Homo sapiens: one gene and its partners. The protein of the gene in region 3 purifies or fractionates together with the protein of the main gene of each other region. This does not show direct contact. Each region holds a gene or a part of one and is shown on either strand. Other genes may lie near its edges.

The links.
Region 1: the proteins of FKBP9 (region 3) and RAVER1 purify together in Homo sapiens (co-immunoprecipitation; 3 studies listed by BioGRID and IntAct, with this or other methods). This does not show direct contact.
Region 2: the proteins of FKBP9 (region 3) and FN1 purify together in Homo sapiens (co-immunoprecipitation; 3 studies listed by BioGRID and IntAct, with this or other methods). This does not show direct contact.

Annotation. Positions count from the first base shown.
Region 1 is NC_000019.10:10,326,980-10,330,634, forward strand, and holds part of RAVER1 (ribonucleoprotein PTB-binding 1), read right to left. Parts: intron 3,548-3,655; coding exon 3,481-3,547; intron 2,133-3,480; coding exon 1,663-2,132; intron 1-1,662. UniProt on the Homo sapiens protein: Cooperates with PTBP1 to modulate regulated alternative splicing events. Promotes exon skipping. Cooperates with PTBP1 to modulate switching between mutually exclusive exons during maturation of the TPM1 pre-mRNA.
Region 2 is NC_000002.12:215,373,559-215,377,213, forward strand, and holds part of FN1 (fibronectin isoform 1 precursor), read right to left. Parts: intron 3,117-3,655; coding exon 2,940-3,116; intron 2,161-2,939; coding exon 2,071-2,160; intron 1,836-2,070; coding exon 1,656-1,835; intron 1-1,655. UniProt on the Homo sapiens protein: Fibronectins bind cell surfaces and various compounds including collagen, fibrin, heparin, DNA, and actin. Fibronectins are involved in cell adhesion, cell motility, opsonization, wound healing, and maintenance of cell shape.
Region 3 is NC_000007.14:33,002,386-33,005,034, reverse strand, and holds part of FKBP9 (peptidyl-prolyl cis-trans isomerase FKBP9 isoform 1 precursor), read right to left. Parts: intron 2,360-2,649; coding exon 2,196-2,359; intron 1-2,195. UniProt on the Homo sapiens protein: PPIases accelerate the folding of proteins during protein synthesis.

The DNA of each region.
Region 1 (3,655 bases), on a different chromosome or scaffold from region 3:
GGCTGGTCTTGAACTCTTGACCTCAAGTGATCCACCTGCCTCGGCCTCTCAAAGTGCTGGGATTACATGCATGAGCCACCTCACCCAGCCTGTTTCTTGTTTTAAATATAGAGATGGTGTCCCACTATCTTGCCCAGGCTAGTCTTGAACTCCTGGTCTCGAGTGATCCTCCTGCCTCTGCCTCCCAACAGACACCTAGTTTAAATGGGGCACCAATACCCCACTTACACGAGAGGGACCCACTCAAGCCCACAGAGCTGGGGGTCCGAGCCCAGGACTGTCTCTCTGTTTTTGAGATAAGGGTCTAGCTCTGTTGCTCAGGCTGTAGTGTCATGGTGCTGTGGTGCGATCATGGCTCACTGCAGCCTCGGACTCCCAGAATCAGGCAATCCTCCCACCTCAGCCTCCTGAGTAGCTGGGACTACAGGCACACCATCATACCTATCTAATTTTTGTATAGAGAGGATTTCACCATATTGCCCAGGCTGGTCTCGAACTCCTGGGCTCGAGGGATCCGCCCGCCTCAGCCTCCCAAAGTGTTAGGGTTACAGGTGTGAGTCACTGCACCTGGCCAGGCCTACCCCTTTTAAGCCTCTGCACTGGCCTCCGCTCACTGGCCCAAGCTCTGGAGCTAGGCTGCGGTGTTCTGATCCCAGCTCTGCCAGACCCTGGCTGTTTAACTCTAGGCAAGTTACTTGACCCCTCTGTGCCTTGGTATCCTCACCTGAAAATGGGAGTGATACCTGCCTCTCAGGGTTGCTACAGGATGAAGCAACTGAAGGTTACGTACTCAGAGTCCACAGCGAGTGCTGGGGGAATGTCCCCTTTGGGATCTCTGGGGATCAAGACCTTCTGGGGGCTCTTAGAGAGTGAGTCTGGCCTGTTCTCGCCCCACTGCACCTGTTACAGGGCGAGGCACACACACAGAAGTGCCTGGCATGTGTGGCTTGAATGAACAAGGGACTGTTTTGCCAACCCATTGTGCAAGTATTGAGTCCCTGCTTATGGAGGAGGGAAACTGCAGATCAGAGAGCCAGTGACTGGCCCGAGCTCGAGGGCGGGGCTGGGATCTGGCAAAGCCTCAGTCTCTGACCTCAAGGCTCAAATAGACTGTGGGCTCCTCTGCAGCCTCCTCAATGCCTGGTCCAGGTCTGGGACCCCATGGGAGGTTTGACGAGGGTACCAGCGAATGAGGAGGTGAGTGGTGAGCAAGCCTCGAGATCCATAGTTACAAGAGTGGCCTTGCATGCATCTGATAGAGGGACAGTGAGGCCTGAGGCTGCAGAGGGATTCAAATCCCCTGGCCAGGTGTGGTGGCTCACGCATGTAATCCCAGCACTTTGGGAGGATCACCTGAGGCCAGGAGTTCAAGACTATCCTGGCCAACATGGCAAAACCCCATCTCTACTAAAAATATAAAAATTATCCAGGCATGGGGGCGGGGCGCCTATAATCCCAGCTACTCTGGAGGTTAAGGCAAGAGAATTGCTTGAACCAAAGAGGCGGAGGTTGCAGTGAACTGAGATTGTATCACTGCACTCCAGCATGGGTGACAAAGTGAGACTGTCTCAAAAAAAAAAAAGAAAAGGCAGATGACTCCAAAGACTCTCTCAGGTGCTCCGGGCCTGGCACCTGCTCCCCAATGCTCTCCACAGGGCTCACCTGGCAGAAGGTGGGGCTGTGGACAGCTGACAGCGCCCGGCACAGAGCGTCCACATCGTTGAAGCCAGGTGGCAGGCGGTCCACACAGAGGCAGCGGGAGTGGAGAAGGGCAGGCGTCAGTTGCCCGGCATCCGTCCAGTGCACGTAGAGGGTGCGTGGTCCCAGCGGCTTGCCCAGCAGGTCCGACTTGGCACGGGCAGCCGAGTCCTTCTTCATGTACTCAGCAAAGCCATAGCCCTTGGATTGGCCAGTGCGCTCACTGTAGACCAGGAAGCAGCGCTCCAGGCTGCCGAAGGGCCGCACCAGCTCCTCGAACTGCTGCTGTGTGAGGCTGGGGGGCAGGTTGGCCACACACAGCAGGGCATCCGTGGGCTGCAGCTGCACCGACAGTTCACGCTCCCGCAGGCGGCTCTGGTGGAAAGCATTGATTGCGGCCTCGGCCTGCTCCCCATTCAGCAGGGTCACGAAGGCTGCGGTGGGAGGAGGGCAGTGCGAGGTCAGCCGGGCCCTGAGGGCCTGCCCCTCCACCCCGCCACCCTGCAAACCAGGTGGGACCTCCAAATGCTGGGCATCTCAGGTGCCTGCTGATCTGAGCAGTTGCCAGCCTTGGCGACTCACACAGGCGAGAGCGCCTGCCATTGACTCTAGGCTCCACGAAGCCCACTCCCTCTCCCAGCCCTGCGTCCACCTGCACCCACAGCAGCGCTCACCAACTGTGGGCCTGGCTCTGTCCTAAGAACGCTGTGGGTCACTCGGGTGATACCAAGGGCAGTGGTTAAGCCCATGCTCACTGGGGCCCAGATTTAAGCCCCAAGCCCCAGGTGGCTTTGGGGGTATCAGTTTCCTCATCTCTCAAATGGATATAACTTAATCATCACAATCACCATTTTGCCAGAGAGGAAACGGGCCCAGAGCAGCACCCCTGTGCCCCGAGTAGGGGAGCCTGGACTTGAACCCAGGCAGCCGGACTCCAGAGGCCCACTCTACACACTGCCCACCCCTGCCACCTTTCCAGGCCACCAGTGCCCCTGAACCCTGCTGCCACGTGCTGCCCCAGATTTGCGATCCACCCAGCGGCCGCAGGAAGCTTTGTTCAAAACGATCACGCCACATCCATCTTGTGGCTTCTAGCTGCAGGGTGCAGTGCAGCCTGTGCGGGCTCGCTGACCTCCCCTCCCATCTCACCGCTGCCACCCGGACCACGCCAGGCACACTCCAGAGGGGCCTTTGCAGCTGCTGTTTCTTGAGCATGGAACACTGAGCCCCACCTCCTCACCTGGTTAACCTGGACCCACCCAGGTAGAAACCCTGTCTCTACTAAAAATACAAAAATTAGCCGGGCATGGTGGCACATGCCTGTAATCCCAGCTACTCGGGAGGCTGAAGCAGGGGAATGGGCTGAACCCAGGAGGCGGAGGTTGCAGCGAGCCGAGCTCGCGCCACTGCACTCCAGCCTGGCGACAGAGCAAGACTCCATCTCAAAAAAAAAAAAAAAAAGACCACACAAGCAGGGGTGACTGGCTGAGTGAGGCAAGAGGGGTAAGAAGAGAATGAACCCACGGCCAAACGTTGTCAAGAATTAGCTCAATGCCAAGCGAGTGGAGTAGGAAGAGAATCAGCCCGATGCCCAGTGTTCTCCAAGGAGAACATGAAGGCTGTCCCAAGATGACAGGATGACAGGCAGATTGGGGCAACCTGCCATGTTGGCCTGGGGGGCAATACTGGGCCTGAAGCTCAGAGCAGCAGACAGTGAGCCAGGCCCTCCCATCTTCAGGGATGGTCACTCCCTGCCCTGGCCCGCCCCATGGCCCCACAAACCTGTCCCTTTGTATTTGTCCACAAAACAGTATTTGAGCTCATAGTCACTGAGCAGGTCATGTACTTCCTGTGGAGATACAAGACAAAAGACAGGGAGTTACTGGAGATGGAAGGGGGCAACCCAGTGCCGCTTCATAGCTGCCACCAGCTATGAAGGCAGGTCAATTACCACCCC
Region 2 (3,655 bases), on a different chromosome or scaffold from region 3:
CTCCATAAACACCCAAATATCCTGCATATAAAGTCCGCATCGCAAACTAATTATCTTACTATCATATCTGACGCCTGAATAGACATTTTTTGGCTAACTTTTCCAGGGTATTCTTTTTTTTTTTTTTTTTTTTTTTTTTGAGATGGAGTCTGGCTCTGTCACCCAGGCTGGAGTGCAGTGGTGCTATCTCGGCTCACTGCAAGCTCCGCTTCCCAGGTTCAGCCATTCTCCTGCCTCAGCCACCCGAGTAGCTGGGACTACAGGCACCCATCACCACGCCTGGCTAATTTTGTTTTTGTATTTTTAGTAGAGATGGGGTTTCACCGTGTTAGCCAGGATGGTCTCGATCTCCTGACCTTGTGATCTGCCTGCCTCGGCCTCCCAAAGTGCTGGGATTACAGGCGTGAGCCACCGCGCCTGGCCTTTCCAGGGTATTCTTTTAACGTGGTCTTATTTGCCTTTTTGAATTTAAGAAAATCTATCAGCATCATATACCACCACTGGAATATAAATTTGAAAGAGAGTCCTGCAGATTATATACATGAATCTACTTAGGCCTAATAACCAAGCAGTCCTCAGTGGCAGATCAATGAAAAGTGAAACTAAAGGCAAGTGAAGGGTAGGAGAGATTGGCCAGTGTTTGTGCAGCCTCTGTGGGAAGTGTCTAGTTCAATTCCTCTCATGTCTGCTTCTATTTTCCTGTTCCCCCCAATTCTAAAAAGCCAGTGTCTCCTTCTAATGTCTGTATGTTCTGTGGGAATTTTAAAGTCCAGGTGATACTCTATACAGACTGATATGGTTTGGCTCTGTGTCTGCATCCAAATCTCATCTGGAATTGTAATCCCCATGTATTGAGGAGAGGAGGTGATTGGATCATGGGGTGGTTCCCCCAGGCTGTTCTCATGATAGTGAGTTCTCACAAGATCTGATAGTTTTGTAAGTATCTGGAAGTTCCTCCTGTGTGCTTCTCTCTCCTGCTGCCATGTAAGACATGCCTGCTTTTCCTTCCACCATGATTGTACATTTTCTGAGGCCTCCCCAGCCATGCGGAACTGTGAGTCAATTAAACCTCTTTATAGCAGTATGAAAACAGACTAATACAGATAGTTTAAATATTTCATCTCTTGGGCAAAAATAATACTAGAGGCTTATAGTCTTTCCCACCAAGGTAGACAACTCTTATTCCCCATTCCAGGCATTCTTCCAATGTGGGTGGTTGGGACTGCTCTGCCTCAAGACCTATCCTGTGATAGTGGTCAACAAGGTCAATGGCAGGTGGTGCACTGGCAAGTCCTGCAAGATTGCCATATCTATAGAGAGCTGAGTGTAATGACAGAATCACAATCAGCTAGTATGCTTTGAAAAATATCTTTCTCCAGGACTGAATTGACAGGTATCTGGCAAACTTGCAGCGAAAGGAAAACATGAGTCTAGTCATGCCATTAGTACAGTCTTGAAATTGCATTTTCCTTCACTCATGCCTTTTGGGATGTATTAGGCTCTACCACTCCTACACAGAGAATGCTTTTTGAGGTTATCAGGAACAGAGTTTCGCATTCTCATGACACAGTATCAAAGACGCTGTGGGAGTTTGCTAAGGACTTCATGTGTCCTAGGTAGTAAGAAGGAAAATGACAGCATGGAAGCAGCAATACCAGTAATAGTAGCCTCTGTGACACCAGGGCGGGGCCGAGGGACCACTTCTCTGGGAGGAGACCCAGGCTTCTCATACTTGATGATGTAGCCGGTAATCCTGGCACGTGGCGGCTGCCATGATACCAGCAAGGAATTGGGTGTGGTGGCCAGGAAACGCAGGTTGGATGGTGCATCAATGGCTGAAAGAAAACAAAATTAAGTCTCTAAGAAGGCAAATAACCAAGAAAATTACTCCCACACTTTTCTCCCGAGCCGTTCTAAACACACTTAAAAGAATCTGAGAATACTGTAAACCGGAAACAAGATTCTCTGGAATCTATAATACAAAAATATACGCCTCACATTTGTTTTTTGAGTTCATGAAACTGATTGCATACAAGTCAATGGCATTTCCTCAGTAGAAGGTATAGTTACCAGTGGAGGCGTCGATGACCACAGGGGAGCTCCGAGCATTGTCATTCAAGGTGTACAGGTAGATCTTGTAGTCAGTGCCTGGTTGTAAACCTGGGATTTGAGAAGAGATGATTTTTAACAGTTCTTGCTTTTTACTAGGAGAATTCTCAAGCTAGCCTGCAATTTTTCTGGGTTCTTCTATCATCCCATATTTATATAGACTACCAAAGTGGTCCACATTTGAACAGTAAAGTAGAGCATGCTATGGATGTTAACTGTTAACAAGAAACATATCTCGAAAGTGAATCACTGATACAGACAAGGACACTGGTAAAGTAAATTCTGGAATGCAAAAATGCTATGTTGGAAGAGGCCCTCTTGCAGAATGGGGGTCAGCCACTTATTGAGGTTTTCTCTTTACCGTAATCAGATGGTCAATAGTTGAGCCTTGGAATCACAATTTTAAAAAGCTAAAAAAGACCTCAGATATTGAATATTCTTCGGTTACAATTTTGGCCTTTATTAAGTGGTATTGTTTACTTTTATATTAACTATGCTTTTTAATGCTAAGATCTATACATCACTGTTTTTTATTTCTTTTAGTTTTAAACCTTATGTTACAATTTTTTAAATAAGAAAGGGCACAATGATGGAAGATCAAACTTGTTGATTGACACTTACGCAATTTCCATGACAAATATTACACAAAATCAGGCATTCAAAGGACAAAACTATTTCTGATCATAGCATGAAAATAACGTTCTAAAACTGGGTTATGATGATAACACTGAAAATAAATTTTATCAGTGTCAGTCGTAGAACAGTTAATAAGCCCGTTTACATTGTGGGTATTTGTTAACAAATGTGGTTAGTGCAATGAGTTCCCTGACCTGTGATGGTGTAGCTTCTGACATCTGGCTTGATGGTTCTCTGGATTGGAGTCTGGCCATTGGCTGGAACGGCATCAACTTGGAAGCCAGTGATCGTCTCAGTCTTGGTTCTCCAGCTAATGGTGATGGTGGTCTCAGTAGCATCTGTCACACGAGCCCTTCTTGGTGGGCTGACATCTGCACAGGAGCATAGCTAGAGATTAGTGCCTGCTTGGCTCATCCATGTAAAGTTTTGGTATTTTAAAACGTTTCCTTGGTATATATCAAATTCATCCATTTCAAGAAATATATAACTAGTAATGTGTAGATTATCTCCTTTGGCATTCAGAGAGAAAGGTCAACTGTAATTAGAAAATAGGAAAATATCTACCTCTCAGACATTTTATTTTGAAGAGCTGAAAAGCTTTATAGATACTACCAGTGGTTCCCAGGGCTGGCTTTATAGTATCTACAAATACTTCAATAAATATTAAAATTATTAATGTATTATAATGTAAAAATATGTGTGGTAGGAGTTACAATAACATGGCCAGCTAACAATTTTGTGTGTGTGTGTGTGTATGTGTGTGTGAGAGAGAGAGAGAGTGTGTGTGTGTGTGTGTGTGTGTGTGTGTCTAATATTACGGCAAGTATTTTGTATTTTCTCTCAACAGGTACAATGCCATCCCTCTTTTATAAATGATAAAACTTTGACACTTTACCTGACTTTTGAAAAG
Region 3 (2,649 bases):
CTATATGACCTATGATCTGTGTTTTGTTTTTTTTCTCTAAATGCAGGTGAAAAACCCTTGTGCTAAATGACTCCAAGAGCCCTTATTATTCAGGTAGCCAATACCCAGCAGCCGTCAGAGCTATTCCTTCTCCCAAGTTGGTTCCCCACCAAAGGCTGACCCCCAAGACCACCCAAGACTGTAAGAACATTCTTGGATGCAGGCATTCATTCATATGATCAAAACATATGGTCTACTATGTGCTGAGCACACTGTTCTAGATCTTGAAATACATCAATACACAAACACCCTGCCCCTGTGATGCTTGCATTCTAGTGGAAACAGACAATTAGACATGAACATAAAAATAGGTAAATTACACATTAAGTTACAAAGTGAAATGCTCCAGAAAAAAATCAAAAAGCGGAGCTCAGTAAGGAAGGGAGAAAGGGATGAAGTGTTGAATTCAGTGGTCAGGATAAAACTTTAAGGAGAAGGGAAGATTTGTGCAAAGTCTTGAAAGATGAGAAGGAAAGGACCGAACAAGTTATCTGGGGTAGATGTCTCCTGAGCAGAGAGGGCAGCCGGTGCCAGGGCTCAAGGTGGACGCATGCCTGGGTGGTCACAGACAGCACTGGGGGCAGGTGTGGCCGGGTAAAGTGGGCAGAGGGAGACAGCCGGCAAAGAGGTTACAGCGAGCAGAAAGTGCAGGGTCTTCACAGGCCACTGTGAGGCCCTGTAGACAGGGGCCTCTGCGGGTCTGACCCAGCTTCTGTGTGAGAACAGCCACTGTGAGGGCAGGAGGAGCTTCATGAACACCACTGCTGTGTGTGACCCGGGAAAGAGATGACAGGCCCCGGGCTAAGATGCTACAGGGTGGGGGTGGTAAGAAGCGTCAGGTTCTGTGTGTGCTCTCAAGGTAGAGCTGGAATGATTTCCTGAGGACCATTACGGCCTACGAGAGAAAGAGAGGAGTCAGAGATCACCGAGTGCTCTCGCCTGAGCCACTGGAGGCCAGTGATGCCACTGACTGCGACGGGAAAGGCTTTGGGTAAAGCAGGCCCCAAGCGGGGTGTGCGGGTGGATAGCAGGGGTTCCATAAATGAGGACATCAAGCAGGCAGCTGAACACATGAGTGTGAAGTGGAGAGAGAAGACTGGACTGGAGCTACAAATCCAGACGCCATCAGGATATGGACCCGATAAGACCACTGAGCGAGTGACTTAAAGACAGAGAAAAGAACAAAGGTCAAGACTTAGCCCGGGGTACTCCAACATGAAGCGATCAGGGACAAGAGGCCTGAGAGGGACGTACCAGGGAGGTAGAAGGAACACCATGAAGTGTGGTGTCCTGGAAGCCAGAGAAAGATGCGTCCTGTAGGGGAATCAGCTGTGTTGAAGTTAAGAGGAGCGTAAGAGCTGACCACTGGATTCCGCGATACGGAAGACATTGGCCACCCTGGCAAGGTCAGGCTCAGAGGCATAGAGGGACAAATGCCAGAAAGGAGTGGGTTTAGGAGAGAATGGGAGGAGAGGAATTGGAGGCAGAAAGGACACACAATTCTTTTGAAGTTTTTGCTGTAAAGGAAGGAAAGCAATGAAAGAAACAGACACATCCAGGGAAGGGAAAATAATAGCACATTTGTATGCAAATGAGAAAGATCCAGAAGGGCTGATGATGTGGAGAGAGAGAGGAAAAGGCTGGAGGATGTGCTTCAATAGCAGATGTGGAAGAGGCAGGGAGCTGGAATTCCCCAGGGGTGGGACAGAACAGATGGTTCTATTGCCCAGCTTCACAAAGAGGAGTGTGGTCCTGGCTCAAACAACTGAGTAGATGTGTGACCTTGGACAAGTCATTTACCTTCTCTGTGCAGTTTCTTCTAAAAAACAGCTGCTGTGAGGGCCAAATCAGAGAATACACTCAGCACATACAGGCAGGCATTGAGCACCCAGTAACGAGAACTAAATGCAGACTGTATGCCCTGGAATCATGCCCTACACCTCTTAGGGAATCGGTTTCTTCAGAGAGGAATGGTGAGCTTCCATCGAGAGGGTGTGTGTAAAAGCGCTTGGCACACAAGTGTGCTGGTCATCTCACAAGCCCTCCAGCCAGCTGGCCTCACCCTTAGAAGTCCTTACCTTCAGAACCGGCCCCACGGCCTTACCAGGCTCCCTGAGCTCTTCGGTCCCACCTTCCTACAGAGGCCAGTTAGTTACCTCTTCCAGGAGGACTTCTCCGTTGCCATCCTTGTCAATTTCTTCAAAGAGGTTGGGTGACACCTCACCATTCCATATGAACATGTACCCCTCAGGAAGGCCAGCCACCAGCTCCAGCAGCTCAATGTCAAACACTAATACGGCACTGCCGGGCACTTCTCCATCTGTCCAGGTGACAGGAGCGGGAGGCGGTGTCAGCCGGCAGGCAGCAGTCAAGCCCAACAACCAGCACCCACCCCAACCTCCAGCAGCCTCACTCAGAGTGGGACTTCTGACCAAAGCAAGAAAGCGGAGCAGAGGCTAGTCACTTTCTCACTGTAGGCAGTGGCCCGTTAATGACTCACGAAATCAGTTTAGAGGGTGGTGACCAGCGTTTAGTTATTTTTTAAATTAAGGAATAGAATAGAGGCCAGGCATGGTGGCTCACGCCTATAATTCCAGCACTTTGGGAGGC